Homo sapiens: one gene and its partners. The protein of the gene in region 3 purifies or fractionates together with the protein of the main gene of each other region. This does not show direct contact. Each region holds a gene or a part of one and is shown on either strand. Other genes may lie near its edges.

Region 1 (7,027 bases), on a different chromosome or scaffold from region 3:
GGGGGGTGCATAGGTAAAAAAGTCCAAGAATACTTTATGCACCAATGAGTGCTTAATCACAGCTTCCCTGAAAACAGAAAAAAAAAGCAAAAAGACACAACAGATCTGGCACTACAGTCATACAAAGACAGGTAATCTCAAAGTCCTAAAGTAATCTAAACAAGTGAAATGGTTTTACTGAATACAATTTGTCATAAAATAGACTGTATTTTTCAGAAATACTAAAACTTAAACAAAAATTTAGATGGTAAAATTGATTTAGTGCCATCTACAACCAAGACCAGAGTATAAACTTCTAGTATTTAATCGGCAAACATAAAATCAACATTTGAAATATGCTCTGCTCTATTAAATAAGGACATCTACATTTTTTCCCCCAGCACTGGACATAATGATTAGAAATCCACATGTGGATGTATTTTTTTAATAGTTGTTTTATTTCTGTTAACACCCTTCACAATCCATCTGTTTCACAAAATAATTTTAGCAGAATTAAAACTTGAATGAACCAAACATTGTCAGCAATTGCAACAACACCTACTTAATCCAAACCCCCTAGTGTGACACTTGGTGGATCCAGGTGTACAGTGGAGGCCGATGGTCAGGCATAAAAGACCTAAAGTTCACAGGTGATACCCAAGTAGACAGCAAAAACTAACACTGCCTTTATGGGCAAAGCACTGTTCTGAGTGTTTTGGAACAACCAACCCATTTAATCTTCACAAAATTCCTATGAAGTCTGTACTATTATTATCCCAATTTTACAAATATGGTAATTGAGGCACAGGGAGGTTAAGTTGCCAAAGATTGCAGTTAGTAATAGTTGGGGGAGTGGGGAACCAGGAGTCGTACCCAGGCAGTCGGGTCCCAAAAGCTATGCTCAGCCACTCCACTACTGGACAGATGCCATGAAGGGCACATGCACAGGCTTCCAAGTCTTACAATCCATTTTTTAATTTTTTTTTATTTTTTTAAAGCAAGGTCTCACTCTGTTGCCTAGGCTGGAATGCAGTGGCACAACCATGGCTCACTGCAGCCATGACCTCCTGGGCTCCAGTGAGCCTCCTGCCTCTCAGCCTCCCAAGTAGCCAAGACTATACACACATGCCATAAAGCCTGGCTAATTTTCTTATTTTTTCGTAGAGATGGGGTCTTGCTATTGCCCCAGATGGTCTTGAACTCCTGGCCTCAAGTGATTCTCCCAGCTTGGTTCCCCAAAGTGCTAGAATTATAGGCGTGAGCCACTGTACCTTGCCTACAACCAAATTTGAGTAACAGATTATATTTGTGAAACTGTTTAGTATACATGGCTTCCATGTAACATTTTATTTGGGGAAAGAATGTTTCATTGCTTAAAAAAGCTCATAAATCACGAATGCATGTTAGTTATCATTTTATAGGGTACAATATCAGAAAAAGAAATCTCCTTTTGCACCAAGAATGGTTTCAAACCAACACTTTTGCACTCTTATTTAGAATAGATTAATACTTGTAAGCAGGAAATAGCTACCTCTTCTGGGCAACAGTTATGGAAAACCTTCCTCCTTTGAATGTCATTTCTTAAGAACAAAACAAAAACAACTTTCTTACTTTTGGGCCATTGGAGTTAGAATCTGTTTCATTTCATCCATAATAAGTTCTAATTTTTCTGGCTGTACCTCTAACACTTTGTCCAGAGTTCGGTGATCTGCTGACTGCAACAAAACAAAACAATCAAACCCCTCTAAATTTAATCAATTTTTTCACTTCAGGAAAAAGAAAAGTAATTAGTCATTTTAAAATAAGTTTTAACAAATTTAAGATTTCCCATATTTACATAATGAAAGCTCTGCTGTATATCCTTGTGGAGTAACCTGATTAGCTGATTCTCAGTCTGTGTATCTATCAGTGCATTTAAAGAGCCAGGCCAACCAAGTTAACCAGCTAACAGTTACTTGCCAAGCACCTAGCTCTTGCCCAATTATGAGATCAAGTAGTCACTTCACAAATTCTTGCCACCATATGTTTTATAATTAGTTGGCTATTCCTATTAAATATAACGAACTGTTAACAAAATTAGTACAGCAACAAATTCAACCCAAGAATTGAACCTGGCTAATGGAGGCAACCCGGGAATCAATCCATATCCCTTCAGACACATGTGTGCATTTATGTTCCAAGGTTTGAAATAGATTCTTTAACCAGCTAGTCCCACTGCTAACTATTCTCAGATTCAATCCCTGTACTCTATCCAAGGTTAGGTCTCTCTGTTCCCCTTCATCTCCAGACACAATCTGAAGAAGGGCAATGCATGCACATGAAAAAACACAGGAGAAGCTAGCAACAGAGAGCCCAATACACTTCAGCCAGAGCTGGTTGGGGGTGGTCACACAACTTTGCTAACTATTGGGAGTCTTGTCCTTCAGTATGACTGTAAAAATAGAAGTATTGAAGTGCTACACACAGAGCACTCAGGAGAGGAACAAAGTTTGAATTGAAGGGGATTTAAAGCCAATGCTCTGGAGAAAGAGAAACTTGCTCACTATACCAGAAACAAAATAAAGCATGAGGGAAAATCAAGGGCATAAGATGGTCTCTTAAAGAACCAGCCACAGTAAAAATACATTCAAAAGATATATAGGGCACCGGAAGTTAAGGAAGAGCATATCGAAAAGTAAAAATACTAGAAAAAGACTTCTGGAGATGTCACCTTGTAAAGCTGAAATGTGTTCCCATAGAGCTCTTCCGTCAGCATGTTCCTCTGCTCCAAAATGGCTTTGTCATTGTATGCGTACTCCACGATGGCTGATGCTTCCGCATGCCGCAGCATCTTCCTCACGTGGCCTTTAAAACTTCTGATTATCTCTGCAATCTGTGGTTTACTTCTAAACGCAACACAATCATGGAAAAATAAATGATAGAAGGAGAAAGCTGGGTGACAATAAAACACAACTTACTTCTCCCAAGACCAACTCATCAATCTGTGTCACTCTGAGGAGTAAATGAGCTAGCATGCATTGAGAAGCTGTGGCCAGCACATAGTAAATGCTCAATAAATGTCATTTCCTATTAAACTGTTCTGCTCGAAAAAAACAGTAGGGCAGGAAAAAAGATAAAAGATTCAAGGAAATAGAAAATCATATTCTAAGATTCCTTTTGAAGATGGGACTTAATCACAAGTATTTTAACTATATCCTAAAAGAATTAAACAGCTGGAAACTACAGCTAGGAATACATTTTTGAAAATTTTGTCAACTGCATATATTACACTTTTTGTTGTTGATTATCATATTCTAGCACATTAATACACTCAAAAAGATTGGTCAAGACAAGTACTAATTCCACTTAATTTAGGAAATTCTCCCATGTTGACATTTTCTAACCCACTGACCCTCTATCAGTTTACTCACCTGTCCCTCCCCAGTCTCCACCCTCTTAATACTGGTGGCTAATTATAAGTTAATTATTCTATTTCTCTTCTTCCAGAGGTTCAAGATAAACATTCACAAATCATCCATCATGTAAAATTATTTTTACTATGCTACAATACCAGTCTACTTCAAAAGTGCTTATCTGTTGCTCACTCTGTCTTTAAAACTTTTGAATGCCAACAAATCAGAAGGTGAGGGTATACCTCCATCAAAGTCATAAATTTCAAGGAGATTTGCAGGACATTTCTCATGTATCTTTTTAGGAATGAAGGCAGTACCATAATTTTACATTAATTTCGATAATTGTATTTAAGATGATACTCTCTAAAAACAACACAAGCATCTGCTGAGAGCCATTACTATTACTTATAAAGACCACAGACTTCCTATCTCGCATCTGAGCACAGTTGGAAACCATGTCTTCAAAAGACAAAGAAAAAATGTATTTTATACATAAAACAACTTACCCATACATGAGAAATTTCTTAACAATATTTCTCGAATATTTGGCTTTACTTAACTCAACCAAATCATCTGAAAAACAAAAATACATTACAGTGACTTCAGATCTCATTTCAGTTCTCTGGAAACAAAGGGAGGAAATTTGTCCCAGGCAAGGAAAAAATAAAAACAAAAAAGGATCTGGAGAAGACAAACCTAAACAAAAATTGTTTTCTAGGACAGTCTTGGGTATTTTAAGAGAAAACAAGTGACTTATTGCAAATGATAACATAATCTTTAGTATGTAATAAATACCTCGCAATTCTTCAAAAGCCTGTTTTCTCTGTTCTTCATTACCATACTGAATGTAACACTGGATCACACGAGTTGAATCGTGTGCAAATGCAATCTGCAGGAAAAAGTTTGAGTTAGACTAATTCTCTTTTGAGACTTATGTTTCTCACTAATTTATTGTGACCTCTTCTGGAATTTCTTGTTAGAAAAAAAGGTAGTCTTCATGAATAAAATCAAACCTAGATTACTGAGAACTACTTGTTTTAATTATACAAAACATCATTCTGTTGTTTTGAGGCCTACCATATTTGATAGGTACAATAATGACATTGAGGCAAGGATAAATTTAACCATTTTGCAAGACTCCTCTCATTGCAATTAAAACCAAAGCAAACCAAACCATCTGATGATTATACAGACTATACTTCTCATTTCTTTGATAAGTTACCGTCCCTAAAAGGGAAATATTTCTGTTTAAAAGGTCTGTTACTGTATGATTTTTATATAAGTGATCTAAGAATGTTTGGCTTTGGCAACCAGAAGTATACCTGTAAGATCAATCTAAAAGTCTTCCTAAAGAAATAAATACAACTATGTCCATAAACACTGTCAATTATATAATAAGTTAATCATCCATTTGTCACATTTTCATTATAATTCCTGCACATATATCCAGTTATATTTCTAGAAGAGTTGTTGTGTTTTGAATCTGATTCTCTAACCCATTCCTCCTCATGACTGTTGGAAGGACCCACTGACCAATTTTCTAGAGCGCCCTCCACGAATCATCCATCATGCAAAATTATTTTCACTACGCCACAGTACCAGTCTACTTCAAAAGTGCTTATTTGTTGCTCACTCTAAAGTTTCTGAATTCCAACAAATCAGGTGAGTGTATACTTCCATCAAAGTCATAAATTTCAAGATTTGTAAGACATCTCTTAAGTATCTCTTAAAAAAATAAGGCTGTTTTTGTGCATATATTGAGCACCTATTATATAATCAACATAAATGCCTTAAACATAGTGTTCTTATTTATAACTCAAAGCAACAATAAGAATGAGCTGTTACTATTCCCACTTTACAGATGAGGGAAGTAAGGTTATGAGAAGGAACTCGCTATCTCTATTACCCCGAGGAAGAATCTTACTTCCCTGAGTCCCAGATACATCAAATATACAACACGGATGATGACATACAGTAAACGACACAATGCATGTGCTGGTTAACACAATTCCTAGCCTATAGTAAATAATCAATAAAGAAGTTATTGTTATTGTTTAAAGGCACACATATTTTAAGCAGCCCAGCCAGGATTTGAATACCAAACTCACTTCTAACACCATGGTCATACAGCTGTGACCTCAGGGTAGTTGAGAAAGAATCCTGAGTGAAATATTTATAAATTGTCGGAGCTGAGGGGGCAGTCCTATCGTAAAAAGATCCTGCTGAATTTATAAGAAAGCGGCAGCTGATGACTTGCTACTTTCCTTCAAACTGTAATATAGCATCTGGTTAGACCTATGCATCTGACTTGACAAAGGCTGCCCCTCCAGGTGCCGTAAAACTATGAGAATCTGTTGTCTTCCAAGCCATTATGTATTAATCCAAATACACAAGAGTCACAGGAAATTTATTACAAAACAGGATTAAGCAGCAACAATGAAAACTACTTTAGAATTCTGAAATGATTATATTTTAGTTAAAGATCTTCGCATGATGTTTACAAAAGCATGGAGGAAAAGAATGAAGTAATATGTTCACATCACAAATATAAAGAAGTTGGCAATTGAGAACATACTAAATTATATGGAGTTTAGAACAACACATTTATAAAATACTACTGAACTAATAAACTTCTCAAGATAACTTTAAGGAAACACTGGCTTATTTTAAGAATTATTAAAAAATGACTGAAAAGACTGATAATCTTTTCAAAACTCCCTAGCAGTAAGGTCCCTCACTTTTAAATTTTTATGTAGTTCAGTGTTATGGAAGATATTTAAAACTTTTGGCCAAATACACCGGAAACAATGATAAGATCATCTGTCATGAATGGTCAGCTACTCCTGAGAGTGAGGCAACTTCAACTGTTAAAAATTGCAACAATGAGTATATGCTACTTACAGTTTTAATTTTCCCTTGAATCAACTTCTGCAAATCACTCATTAACTTTACTCTTTTTTCTTTGTCACAGTCTTTTCTACAAATGAGGAGAGGAAGGAAACACAGTTGAAATAAAGAAGTTATTTTAAACACACAAAATTAAAAACTGTACCAGTATATGTTCTCCAAGTTCAGCATGATTTTCTTTTCTAAGGCAGCAAACCTCTGCCATTAAAATTACTATTCCAGAGCAGCCAGACAAAAGTAATTTTCTCAAAGGCAGAAACTCATCTCAAAAGGTATAATTTTAGGTATCAATCCAAATCTTAACAGCCAGAACTTCAGAAGTAAAAAAAATAATAAAACAAATCTAAGATAACAAATACTGAAGTATCTCAAAATCTAGCTGATAAGAAATTGTCCTTCATTTTCTCAGAAATCTCTCAGGAAGAATGTCAAATTTATTTCAACCTCATACATTTTCATAAGCATATCCGATGCCATCATAATGATTCTACACACTTCTGTGACGGGCAGACTTCCAAGTACTGATGTCTCTAATGGGGTGTCATGAGGACCCCCTCAATAACCCAAGTGCTATGTCATTTATTTTAGGACATCTCACTATTTACAAGGTACACTGACTTCTCCACTGTTGCAAAGGGACTAACAAAGGCATCTTTAGGTAGAATTACCTTCTTAAAATCTCCCACATCTGCTTTGCCCGAACAACAATGTCATAGTTGGTTTTATCACTGAGTTGTCTGCTTTGCTTC
Region 2 (7,439 bases), on a different chromosome or scaffold from region 3:
TCAAACTATGTGCAAAAGCCTGGATTAAACAAAGTTAAACCAGTTTATTTTCTGTAGGGTTTTCAAAACTTTTAAAATGCCAGTTTGCCAATTCATGTTACATATGTAGAAGGCTACAGTACACAGTTTTTCTCAAATGTATTTGACCAAAAAATTCTTTTTCACCCAAAATATAGTTTGGGTATATAATCCAACAATCTCTCAGCCAAAAGTTAAAATGTTTAAATGGGCTTATCTTAACCCACTTCTCTTCTTCACATGTTGGCAAACTACAGATATTTAGAGTGGTGTTGTCCAGTGTGGTAGCCACTAGCCATATGTGACTAATTATAAATTAATTAGAATTAAATAAAATCAAAATTTCAGTTCCTCAATCATGCCACATTTCAAGTCTGTTCAGGAACCACATACGGCTACCATATTGGTCAGCACAAATACAGAAAATTTCCATCATCTGAGAAAGTTCTATCAGTCAGCATTAGGTCAGAAGTGTGTTTTTTAAAGAACATGGGGCCTGTGCAATCTTCAGAGAAAGATTGTAAATTATTACACATGTTATTGCCACTATCCCCCATAAAACGGGGCCAGGTCAGAGATCCTCGATGATATAAAGCCACTGTAATGTCAAAGCACAGGGAAAAGGTAAACAAAGGAGTGGAAAAAATGAATAGCAGGAAGAGAAAGCAACATCATGAAGCCTGGAGATGAAGCTTGAAGCAGGATTCAGGAGCCTGGGTTCTACTGCCTGTTATGCCAATATTCACCTTTTTAAAAAATATTTAATTTTTTTGCACTTCATGCGAATTAACTGTGATTTGATTGAACAGGCCTCTTTACTACTTTGGGCCTCAGTTTCCTTTTCTACAATACAAATTTAAGCCAGAGGATCACTAATTCCCTCTAGTTCTGTACAGTTAAAACACACACACACACACACACACACACACACAAGAAATGAGAAAGTAGGGAATAAAAGTAAAAATAAAAAGAGAGCAAGATCATTGCATATTGGTGGTGAAAACTGGCAGTCCTGTCATCTTGCCACAAGTTCTACTCCCAAGATTTGGATGCCACCAAATGAATAAAAATTTAATGCTATTCAATAAATACTTATTGAGCAATTATTTGCAACGAACTACAGTATTCGGAAATAGCACCACCAAAAAAAATGATTAGCCTTAAGACTCAATACGTGGAAAGAATGCAAGACTCACAAAACTTTAGGTTGAAAGATTGTCTCATTAACATGTAATAACCTAACTGGTCCAGTACTAAGAAACAAGTATTTCAAATATTCCTGAGGAAAAACAACTAGTAAATTATATAAAATAATATATAAAGTACAAACATACGGCATAATCAAAAGCATCACATTTCTTCCACAAAGAATATAAATAAATGCTACAGGTACTTGGGAACAGGAAGACATCAGTTCTGGCCAATCTAATTTTTCTAGAATCCACATTTAATTGGATACTCTGACATTTTCTAGTAAAATATTCTTGAGGGCTATTGGAATTAACAGATCCACAAAGTGTGCTAGACAGAATCAAATGCAACTGAAATTCCGGCCTCTACTATCTACTGCACAAATTCCCACTTTTCAGAGGCACTGTTGGTCCTATTTCCTAGTATCAAAGGGTAGAGAAAACCTTCCACATGCCTATTCTAAGAATTTAAATAGCTAATATGAAAACTTTAAAATGATTTTTACCTCTAGATTAAAAAGAACCAAGATAAACTGCGTCTGATATTTTACCTTGCAGAAGCTAAGTCAACCAGTGAGTCGTGTAACCTTTATATGAATTCCCTCCTGAAAGACTGGAACCATACCCCTGACTATTCTGGAGCAAGGGAGAGCAGATAACTAAAGCTCTCCAGCAAGCAAAACAAGGAGAAGGGATTTTAGGAACATGCCTTTTCTTTGGAAAGGCATTTTTTAGTACCCCACCTACTAATCTAACGCGGCGCGGAAACCTTGCAGAATTTGAAAACAAATGCTGAGAGGCTCCGGGGGACCGGTAAAGGGATTAGCAACTGACAGCTCGGCCTCGGAGCGAGAAGCCTCAAGTAGTTAGATCAAACCGTGTCAACGATCTGAAATCCAGGGTCCACCCCAGTGAGCTTAGAGAAGTACAGCAGCAGAAGGTAAGCAGGGGTTTGGCGTCTTTCAGTCCTAAAGATGCGGGATATCGGAACTGAGAGAGACCTAGAACCCAAGCCGGGCAGTTTGCCTGCTCTCACCTCTCTTGGGGGCTTTGATCAGAGGCACCCCTCCAGTCCTCTCGCCGTTTTCCTGCTTGTCCTTGTGCTTGAGATCGGTTCCGCAGGAGCTGGGATCACCATCGGGGCCGCGGTGGTGATGGTGCTTGTGCCGCTCCTTGTGGCCCTTATGCTTGGGCCCGGCCGCGCTCACCGTCAGAGGCGAGAAGGTGAAGAGGGCCGAGGTGCTTGGGGCCGGGAGAGGGGCAGCGACAGCGGGCCCGGCGGGTGCCAGCGAAGGTGGCGGCGGAGGCGGCAGGAGAAGAGGCTCAACAGGGCCTGGGACAGTTGGGGCTGCATTCGTTGGCGGCAGCGGCCCAGGATGTTGGCGGCTGCGACGCCGCCGGTGAGGGGGAGCGAGAGGGGGCTCCTGGCTCGGCCGCCCCCGCTTCTCCTGAGACCCCCCACTGCTAGATCGGCGCTGCCGTTTAACTCCCCGCGGGGAGACCCCAGCATGAGGTTTCTCCTTCCCCTCTTTGTCCGGCTCCTCCTGCGCCGCCACCGCCCGTACTACGCGCACCGCTCCGACCTGCGCAGCCATTTCACCCACAAACACACATTTAAATGGCCCGACCGCCCCCCCGTCCGCGCATCGCGCAAGCGCCGCCCGCGCACTGCCCGCTGGGCATTGGAGTCTCTCCTCCGCCCTCCACTTGTCGGCCGTTCTTCGTCCAGAGATGAACATGCCGGAAGCGGCCGTTCCCAGCTTTTCTCCGCAGGCCTCTCCAACCGAGCTTCTATTGTAAAGCACCCTATGCCGCGCAAAGCGTCATGGGAGCTGTAGTTCCGCCGCGCCCCCGCCGCGTCCCCGGCTCTGAGTGGAGGAGTGGAAAGGGAGCGTGCGCGAAGTCACGCTTCTGGCTGCGACGCAACCGCCGCTGGGCGGTGAGTTGCCGCCAACCGCCCTAACGGCCGAAACAATGTTAATGGCTTTCAGAGTCTGGCGGCGCGTTCCCATTATCATCTTCCTGTGACCCTTCCTCATTTTACACGGAGGAGGTGGTCTCCACAGTGATTTTAAATTTAATATTTCTCTCATAACCTTTGTGAGATAAAAGAATCTTCATCCTTTTAACTTTGACGAGGGATGAAATGAAGGTGAAAAGAGGATTTAGTAATATGTAAAATAAGGGTGGTTTTGCTGTAAAAATATGATAGGGCCGCAATTCAGAAATGTTTTCAAGCATCTGGGGCATTGCTATGGTTACAACTACAGGCCTACGAAGTCAGGTGCGAGAACTGCTTGGAGTCCTGGTGAGGACGGCCCCTCCTCGCCATCCGGCCACATCCCCTCTAATGCCTGGAAATGTCCAGCATTTATTTTGAATATATCCCTACAGTTGCGAAAAATTGTAGATGGAAAACCACGTTTAAGATTTTTTATAAGTTTTTTTTTTTCAAATCTTAAGGATAAGATTGCATAAATTTGAAAAGTGTGCCTACCGGAGAACACACCAAAAATCATCACTGCTCACTACGGATAGTTGTTGCTCAGAAATTCATTTAGAATTTCATCCTCGCTTTAGCTTTTACCTGGGGTTCTTTTAAGTATTTATTTAGAGACGGGCGGGGCGGGGCTCGGTGTCTCAGGCCGGTAATCCCAGAGCTTTGGGAGGCCGAGGCGGGAGGATTGCATGAGGCCAGGAGTTCCAGATCAGCGTTGGTAACATAGTGAGCCTCTGTCCCTACAAAAGTATTTTTTAAATTATCTGGGTGTCGTGACACGCGCCTGTAGTCCCAGGTACTCGTGAGGCTAAGGTGGGAGGAGTGGTCGCACCACTGCACTCTGGCCTGGGTGACAGATCTAGACCCTGACTCTTAAAAAAAAGAGACAAGGTCTCGCTCTGTTGACCAGGCTGGCCTCCAACTCCTGGGCTCAAGGAATGAGTAGCTGGGTCTACAGATGCACTCATGGTGCCCTAAGTAACTCATGGTTACCTAGAATTCTTTTAGTATATTTGTTTATTGATAAAGACATTTGGAAGTAATTGATTACAATGATATATACTCAGCAGATAAAATTACTGTGGTTTGATTTCACTAGTTTCTGGAGAAGTATTACCTAAACACTACTGCAATGAAGTCAGTTTAACAACCAAAAAGTTTATTGAGTGTCTGTTGGATACATTGTACTACAAGAGACAGATAATAATACTTCATTCAATTTGCCCTATTGGACTTCCAAATGAAAAATACTGAAGAACAAATGATGTTTAAACAATACTACATGTTTCTAAAAGTTATAAATAAAGTTATTTAAATAAAAATATTTTTAATGCATTAGGGGAAGTCAGGTGGATTCTTTGTAAAAACAATTACCTGCCAATTTATTTACTACATAAAATTAGAGTTGAACTAGATTTTCTTATGGCAGATCCATATTCATATAGAAATTCATTTTAAACTAGTATTTCTGATTGGTTAGATAAAAATTGCACATGATCTGAAAGATCCTGTATAAACATATACAATTTATATCTTTTGCTACCAAAAGATAGCTATTATATTTCATTGATTACTTTTCTAGAATTGGTAATTTAATGACTTTGGTTAAAACTTATCAGGATTTCAGTTGAATTCCTTGTTACATTCAAATAATTGTCATTATTTGCACATTTTATTCTAATAAATATAATTTCTCATTTTCTTAATATTCCAGTTTTCCACAACATTTGGGAAGATTTACAAGGTATACTCCATTTAGGCAAAAATAACTGTCAGGGAATAGTCATTGTCAAGAGCAGTTTGTATTGCAACCCACAAAGTAAGTTTTTTTTTTAACTTTTTATAGTATATTCTGGCAATGTAGAAATTAGTTGAGATCCAAATCTTACAAACCTTTTGAAGTTTATGTTTATGTAGAAAAGTAAAAGAAAATAAAAATAACTGGCAAAAATGAAAAATAAATCCATTCTAAAAGTGTTTCTCATATAGCATTCTGTACATAAGCTCAAGTGACAAACTTTTATTTGCAGTTTTCAACTCAATGCAAATGATATGAAAATGCAAAACTGGCACTTATTGGCATTTTGCTTTTCTTTTAAAAGCTATTAACACATTAGCATATCTTCATATTTGATATTATGCATATAGAGCACTTATTTTAACTAGCAGTATTCTAGTAGTTTTATTTGCAGGTGTACTTGCAGCCCATATTATTATAAATCTGGAGTTTTATTAAATATTCCAAGTTGGTGGTGGATTCCTTGGTCCTTTGGGTTTTGAAAAACGGTTTGCAAAACCTGGGAACAAAAATAAAGTTGAATGAAAAGAAAGATGTTTTAAGTATAGAAATGAATACTTGGATTTTAGAGTATATTATAATATATGCAAATACATGGTCTTTTTTTAAATGTTAGGCAGCATCTTGACCAGTTTAGTAATAGATTATAAAGGGATTGTAGTAATCTAAAGCTTAAATGATAACAGAATACTAATAACACTTTAAATTTGAAGAGCACTTACAAATTTAATAATGGTAATAATAGAATGTAGGACCCTGGTTATATATAGGCTTTGATAATTTAGTATATAATATCATTTGTCTATGACTTTTTGTCATCCACTCCATCCCATTAAATGAAGTCAGGAAATTTTAATTTCACAAAAATATAGCACCGTTACTTATAACATTATTGTATTACATCTAGTTATACCTCTATGTCGGTCCAGAAATCCTTCAATTTACCAAGAGATTATGTTTGAAAATCTTAGAAAAAATAAACAATCCTGAAAAACTAAGTAGGTAAGTAAACATTATTATTTATCTTTCTTCTTCAAACTTGTTCCCCCTACCCCACCCCAAAGAAGGAGGATGAGAAAATTTTTCACAACTAATGAAGGCTATTTCTGGATGCTTTCAAAAGATGTGCATGTTGATGATGTTGGTTCTTTATCATTTCAGCAACATGTGACTTTATGACTTTTCTTTTTGATGGTAGTGTCTTTTTGTTTGTTTGTTTTTTGTCTGAGACAGAGTCTTGCTCTGTCGCCCAGGCTGGAGTGCAGTGGCGCGATCTCGGCCCACTGCAACCTCCGCCTCCCGGGTTCAAGCGATTCTCCTGCCTCAGCCTCCTGAGTAGCTGGGATTACAGGCGCCAGCCAACATGCCTGGGTAATTTTTGTATTTTTAGTAGAGATGGGGTTTCACCCTGTTGGCCAGGCTGGTCTCAAACTCCTGACCTCAAGTGATCCACCCACCTTGGCCTTCCAAAGTCTGGGGATTACAGGTGTGAGCCACTGAGCCAGGCCTAATGGCAGTGTATTTTTAAGTTATCTTACACTTAGCAACTTTAGGGACTTAAAGTAAGAAATGAAATGTTTGAAGTATAGGGGAATAATAAAATGAAAAACTCAAAGATATACCTAAACCTTTAATTTCATCATCATACAAATTGTATTATCTACCTTAAAAAACTGATGTAAGGATCAAATGAGATATTTGTGTAAAAAGCGAATGGGGCAGGGTGCAGTGGCTCATGCCTTTGAATAATCCCACACTTTGGGAGGCCAAGGCAGGTGGATCGCTTGAGCCGAGGAGTTCAAGACCAGCCTGGGCAACATAGTGAAACCTTGTCTCTACAAAAAAACACAAAAAAATTAGCCGGGCATGGTGGCTTGCACCTCTGGTCCCAGATACTCAGGAGGCTGAGGTGGGCAAATCATTTGAGCCCAGGGAGGTCAAGGCTGCAGAGGGGAAAAAAAAAAAGAATTGAAAAAAAAAAACAGCATCCAGCACAATGCCTGGCACATAGTAAGTACTCAAATGTTCCTCAGGCCAGTCATGGTGGCTCAAACCTATAATCCGAGCACTTTTGGAGGTGAGTATGGAGGATAGCTTGGGGCCAGGAATTCAAGCCTATGGTAACTACTCAAATGTTGCTTAAATTTCAACCCAGAAGCCAGGCGTGGTGGCTCACACCTGTAATCCCAGTACTTTGGGAGGCTGAGGTGAGTGGATCACCTGAGGTCAGGAGTTCAAGACCAGCCTGGCCAACATGATGAAACCCTGTCTCTACTAAAAATACAAAAATTAGCTGGGCATGGTGGCGGGTGCCTGTAATGCCAGCTACAGGGGAGGCTGAGGCAGGAGAATCGCTTGAACCCAGGAGGCTGAGGTTACAGTGAGCTGAGATCGTGCCACTGCACTCCAGCCTGGGTGACAGAGCAAGACTCCA
Region 3 (5,811 bases):
TTTTGTAAAACCAGTAGTCTCCAACCTTTTTGACACAAGAGACCGTTTTGTGTAAGACAATTATACCACGGACCAGGGGGTGCAGGGGCTGGGAGCAATGATTTCCGGACTAAAACTGCTCCAACCTCAGATCATCAGGCATTAGATTGTCACAAGGAGCCTGAAACCTAGATCCCTTGCATGTGCCATTCACAATACAGTTTGAGCTTATGAGAATCTATCTAATGCTGCAGCTAACCTGACAGGCGGTGGAGCTCAGTTGGTTAATGTTCGCTCACCCCTCAGCTGTGCGGCTCAATTCATAACGTGCCATGGACAGGGACCGGTTACCGGTCGGTGGCCGGGGAAATGAGGACCCCTGGTATAGATGGTAGTCTGGCTATGTTGCCCAGGATGGTCTTGAAGCCTGGCCTGAATTAATTCTCCAATCTCAAGCCTTTTCAACTCAGCTGCATCACAACTTAAACCTATAGATAACTGTCACAGAAACTTGTTTCCAGTGTTACGCCATCTTAAAATAATGTGGGTGGCTCTTAAAAGAGCCTTTGGGTTCTTTCCAAATTGGCCTCCCGGAAAGCTCTTTACTTCTTAGATGTGGCCTTTCTAACATTAACTTCATGATGTTGGGTCAATTTTGACTTCGAAGCCCTTGCCTTCACTGGGCTCTTCTGCTGTTGCTTACCCTTGGCTCCTTTAGCCTTTCTCCCGCTCCTAACAGTTTTAGGAGTTGTCGCTCTCGGCTTCTTGGCTCTCTTATTGGTTTTAGCAGTCTTTGGTGACTTGGAGTCCCTGGATAAAACCAGCTTCTTGGTCTTGGCAGAAACTGACTTTTTAGCCTTGCTTCTGGTAGATTTAGGAATCACCTTCTTACTAAGCTTAAAGGAACCGGAAGCACCAGTACCCCTGGTTTGCACCAGGATTCCCTTGTTCACTAAGCTCTTGAGGGACAGTTTGATGCGGCTGTTATTCTTCTCTACGTCGTAGCCAGCAGCGGCCAATGCCTTCTTGAGCGCAACCAAAGACATACCTACTCGTTCCTGTGACACTGAAAGGGCCTCGGTGATCAACTTGGACACAGAGAGGTTCGGCACTTTGCGACTTGCACTTATCAAGCCAGCCGGCTTCCTCCCTCGCTTCTTGGTTGGAAGTTTCTCCATAGCGGCTACACCAGCACTGGCAGAAGCTGCAGGCACGGTTTCAGACATAACAACAGAGAAACGCAAGATGTAATAACCAGCGAAAAGCATGAAACACCCGGGCGGCCTCGGGGCCTTATATAGGGTAGGGCGCGCTGTGATTGGTGCATCACCTAGGCACCGCCCCCGCCCCTTGGAGGAGGAGTATTTGTGTTTGTTTTACCCGGAAAAGTTGAGTATAACAAAACCCCTCTTTACAGAATCTCCCAGGGTCTAGTGCTGAATAATCTGCGGAAATTCATATTTGACATGACTTTTCTCTTTTTAATGAAAAATGACCCTGGATGCCAAAACTATTCGAGAAAGCCCTCGATTTTCAATCAAATTCACGGAGAGGAACAAAACTTCCCCTTTTCCTTGTAAATTAATAAGTAATCTTTGGCAGAAGACTTATTTCATCTCTTCAGAGTGGTCTTCCAAATGGATAGCTTCAAATCGGTAGAGGAAAGAAATTATTCACGCCATGATTTTTATTTAAAATTATTTATATATGTGAGGGAAGTAACACAGATCTCTTAGCTGTCTAATTGCGGAGTCAGAAGATGCTTATAGAATTGTCAAAAGACTGCAGAGGATGTCTTTATTTAGGCATGTGCAATCTAATAAATCATAATCCACAGGAACATGGGTTGTCTGTAATTAAAGGTGCTCCCAAGTCCCTGTAGCTTTATAGAGGACTCTCAAGGATGGGGTAATATCAAGATCTCACACATTATGTAAGATTGGCCATAATCAGGCCACTCTCATGACCGGTGTCCTCAACTGAGTTTTGCTTCTGGTTTCATTAATTGAAGTCCCCTCTATCCCCCTGCCCACCCCTACATCCCCAGATAAACAGACACAGTCCCTCCCCTAAATTAACTATAAAACATGAGGTAGGAACCCTAGACTCAAGAACCTACTAGAAACTACAGACCCCATGTCTAACAAGACTGGGCGGGTTGGCTGGGCGCAGTGATTCATGCCTGTAATTACAGCACTTCGGAAGGCTGGAGGCCAGGAGTTCAAGACTAGGTTGGCCTGGTCCCTACTGAAAAAAAAAAAAATTAGCTGGGTGTGGTGGCACATGCCTGCAGTCCCAGCTTCTGGGTAGACTGAAGAGGATCACTTAGAGCCCAGGAGCTTGAGGTCGCAGCTACTGCACTCCAGCCTGGGCAGACCCTCATCTCTGAATTGCTTAATTAATTAACTGAGCTGGCAGATTTGGCTGCATAGCTGTGGGGAAAGGGTTGTTGGAATAATGTCCAGTGTGCTCCCCTGAGCTTCTACTGGAACAGGTCTTTGTGAGAGGCCTGGAGATAAGAGCTTGCTCACAAAGGCTGAGGCCTTTCTGGGATGCTGAATGAGTTTAGTGTGGCCAGAGCATAGGGTCTCAGCAAAGGAAAACTCCATAAGGGCCATTTGTGAAGATCCCCAAATACTTGTGTGAAACATTTGGTAGATATTAGAAGTTTTGTTTTGGTTTGGTTTGAGACAGAGTTTTGCTCTTGTTGCCCAGGCTGGAGTGCAATGGTGTGATCTTGGCTCAGTGCAACCTCCACCTCCCAGGTTCAGGCAATTCTCCTGCCTCAGCCTCCCAATTAGCTGGGATTATAGGCGCCCACCACCATGCCTGGCTAATTTTTTGTATTTTTAGTAGAGATGGGGTTTCATCATGTTGGCCAGGCTAGTCTCGAACTCCCCACCTCAAGTGATCTGCCCGCCTCTGCCTCCAAAGTGCTGGGAATACATGCGTGAGCCGCCGCGCCCGGCAGACATTGGAAGTTTTTAAGCAGAGAATTTGTTGTATTGTTGTAGTTGTCTTGGGTTTAGATTTATTGCATAAACAATCATTTTTGAGAAGGGCCCACAGTCAGAAGTTGGGAGTCTGTTGCAATAGTCTCAGAAGAATGGCAAAGACCTTGCCTAAGGGGACAGTGTGGTAAAGGAGAGAGTCTACATTTGAAATATTTCTGAAACAAAAGCCAAAAGATAAGACTTCAAACTTCTGATTGCAAAGTGAGATAGAAAAGTTTCTTTCTCTCTGTCTCTCTGTTATACCCATACACACACACATATGCACAAACACCTGAAAGAAAAAAAAATTCAGGGAACAGGCCAGGTAGGGTGGCTCATGCCTATAATCCCATAAATTTGGGAGGCTGAGGCTAGTGGATCACTAGAGCCCAGGAGTTCACAAGGCCAGCCTAAGCACATAGCAAGACCCTGTCTCTACAATTAAAAAATTACCCGGGTGTGGTGGCACGTACCTGTGGTCCCAGTTACTCAAAAGGCTGAGGTGGGAGAATCACTTGGGCCCAGGAGGTCAAGGCTGCAGTGAGCATGATTGTGCCACTGCACTTCAGCCTGGGCAAGAGCGAGACCCTGTCTCAAAAAAAAAAAATTTTTTTTTTTTTTCCAGAAAACAATACTATCTTAAGCACCAGCACTTTAGTATATTCTACTGTGGACTAGTTCATTTTTAAAAGAACACTAGGTTGGAAATCATGAGATTGATTCCACAACTCACTAAAGCACCGTGTCACTCAGTTTGGAAAATATTTCTCCTTAGAGAGATTACAGGTGCATCTTTCTGAGCACCTGTATGTTTTTACATTTGTTTGGCTTCTCTGACCTTTGATAATTTCTGAGTGTTGTACTATTAAATATTAGTGGCTAGGGGTCAAATTGTGGATCAGGTTGATCCTTATATTTACAAGTTGACAGATACGTTACTCCATTGCTTTAAAACTAACACAGAATTAGAGAATTTAGAAAATTCTTACATTCCATAATTTAAGACCCAGAAAAAAAAGATTCATATTTTGCATTAGATAGCTAAAATGGTACCATAAAAACAAATGATATCCACATATATATAGTATATAGTGCTTCTTCTGTGCCAGTCACTATCCTAAGTTTTTCTCTCCCTTCCCCAAAAATGTAGGAATTAACTTTATAGATGAAGAAACTGAGGCACAGGAATGTCACATGACTTGCCCAAAGGAAATTCAGTCTTCCTTTTTCAATTCTTTTTTCTTTTTACTTTGCTGCAGGGTCTCGCTGTGTTGCCCAGGATGCTCTTGAACTCCCGGACTCAAGCGATCCTCCTTCTTCAGCCTCTCAAAGTGCTGGGATTACAGGCATGAGCCACTGCGCCCAGTCAGGAAATTCAGTCTTCTAAACATTCATTATTGAAATAATATTTCCATAAACATTTTCTTAGATAAACTTTGGCATCTCTAACTTCTAAGTAGCAAAGTCATGGAAACAGTCACAGAGAAAATAACTTTATTTTAAAAATAATAAATTCTTATCTCCGGTGATAAGAAAAGTATACAGCCCATTTTTTAAAGTATTAATTTTACATTCTAATTTGGTTTTTTTAATGTTTACCATATATTTCTCTTTCTACATATGTGTGTGAGTGAATAAAATAAAGGCATCTACAGATTTTTACATGTTCAGTGAGATTAGCAGGGTTTCACTTGACAGCACTCTTACCATACTCACTTCTTGGCTTTTCCTGATATCTAACATTTTTAAAATGAGTAGTCCCTTTTCATATGATTCTTCCTTTTTCAAGCACTATTTTTGAACTTTATATTTGATTGGCAATAATTTTTACAGACATTATTTTACGATTAACTTTAACTCTGTTCAAATGATTTCTTCATTTTCAAGTATTTTATTTGAACTGCTTTTTTTGGTTCAACTACTGAGTATTTAATTTGTCTGTTTTGTAGAAAGGGTATGTAGATAATTCCATGTTTTGTAAAAGTTGTCTCTAAAAATCTAACAAGTGTAAGTACGATGCTATTACAGGGCTGAGAGACACAGAAAAAACACACACACACACACAAAATTTTTTTTTAAGTATTACTTGGTCTCTAAACTAAAGAATTTACCATCTATTTTGGGAGATGAAATCCAAACATAAGCAATGACAACAATTATTATGTGCTTAAATCAATGTCCAAGACAATAATTGACCCCAAGGCAGGGAAATCACTGAGAGAGTATAGCAGAGAAGGTGTCCTCTCTGTTCAGATGAGCCTGAATAATTTGTTCAGTAGGTTTCTGCTACTCATTTATAAACTGCACATCTTCTGTAGTCCTGGAAAATGTCTAAGAGGAGAGAGGAACTAAGATCAGGGCCACCATTTAATTAGGAAGTTCTGGGAGTACCTGACCCAGAAGAAAGATCAGCATAGCTGAAAATCACCCATAGGAGAAACATCTAGGTAATCTTATTTCTGTTCCACCTGACATTTCAACCTCTCTTTTCAGCTATAAGTATATAAGTACTTATATGTAAGTAAAGAAATTTACCCACATCATGTTGTTTTTTATTCAATGCTTAACATGTATAATGCTAACAACACAGACTTGATGTCCAAAACATTTCTATGAACAGCTCATTACTGGATGACTGAAATAATTTTTCCAAGCCACGTGGAGGTTAATGAGTCAGTTTTTGAAAGCAAGGAGAGAAAAACATTAGAATTTAAGGTGACGTTTCTGTTGCGTTGTAATCCAGAATACAGAATAGTCAGAGAAAAGCAGAAAGTCTTTCTTCTTAAATTTTCTGAAAACCAAGGTGTGCATTAAAATGGTACATGCCTACTTCCCTTTC

Evidence for each region. The genes of interacting proteins can lie anywhere in the genome.
Region 1: the proteins of H1-6 (region 3) and PUM3 purify together in Homo sapiens (affinity purification with mass spectrometry; 2 studies listed by BioGRID and IntAct, with this or other methods). This does not show direct contact.
Region 2: the proteins of H1-6 (region 3) and RSBN1 purify together in Homo sapiens (affinity purification with mass spectrometry; 2 studies listed by BioGRID and IntAct, with this or other methods). This does not show direct contact.

Annotation. Positions count from the first base shown.
Region 1 is NC_000009.12:2,827,085-2,834,111, forward strand, and holds part of PUM3 (pumilio homolog 3), read right to left. Parts: coding exon 6,947-7,027; intron 6,349-6,946; coding exon 6,273-6,348; intron 4,261-6,272; coding exon 4,167-4,260; intron 3,945-4,166; coding exon 3,878-3,944; intron 2,865-3,877; coding exon 2,690-2,864; intron 1,695-2,689; coding exon 1,591-1,694; intron 68-1,590; coding exon 1-67. UniProt on the Homo sapiens protein: Inhibits the poly(ADP-ribosyl)ation activity of PARP1 and the degradation of PARP1 by CASP3 following genotoxic stress. Binds to double-stranded RNA or DNA without sequence specificity. Involved in development of the eye and of primordial germ cells.
Region 2 is NC_000001.11:113,809,466-113,816,904, forward strand, and holds the start of RSBN1 (lysine-specific demethylase 9), read right to left. Parts: upstream 3,012-7,439; 5' UTR 2,948-3,011; coding exon 2,245-2,947; intron 1-2,244. Other genes in the region: PTPN22 (tyrosine-protein phosphatase non-receptor type 22), read right to left, coding at 5,440-5,504. UniProt on the Homo sapiens protein: Histone demethylase that specifically demethylates dimethylated 'Lys-20' of histone H4 (H4K20me2), thereby modulating chromosome architecture.
Region 3 is NC_000006.12:26,106,889-26,112,699, forward strand, and holds H1-6 (histone H1t), read right to left. Parts: upstream 1,248-5,811; 5' UTR 1,206-1,247; coding exon 582-1,205; 3' UTR 524-581; downstream 1-523.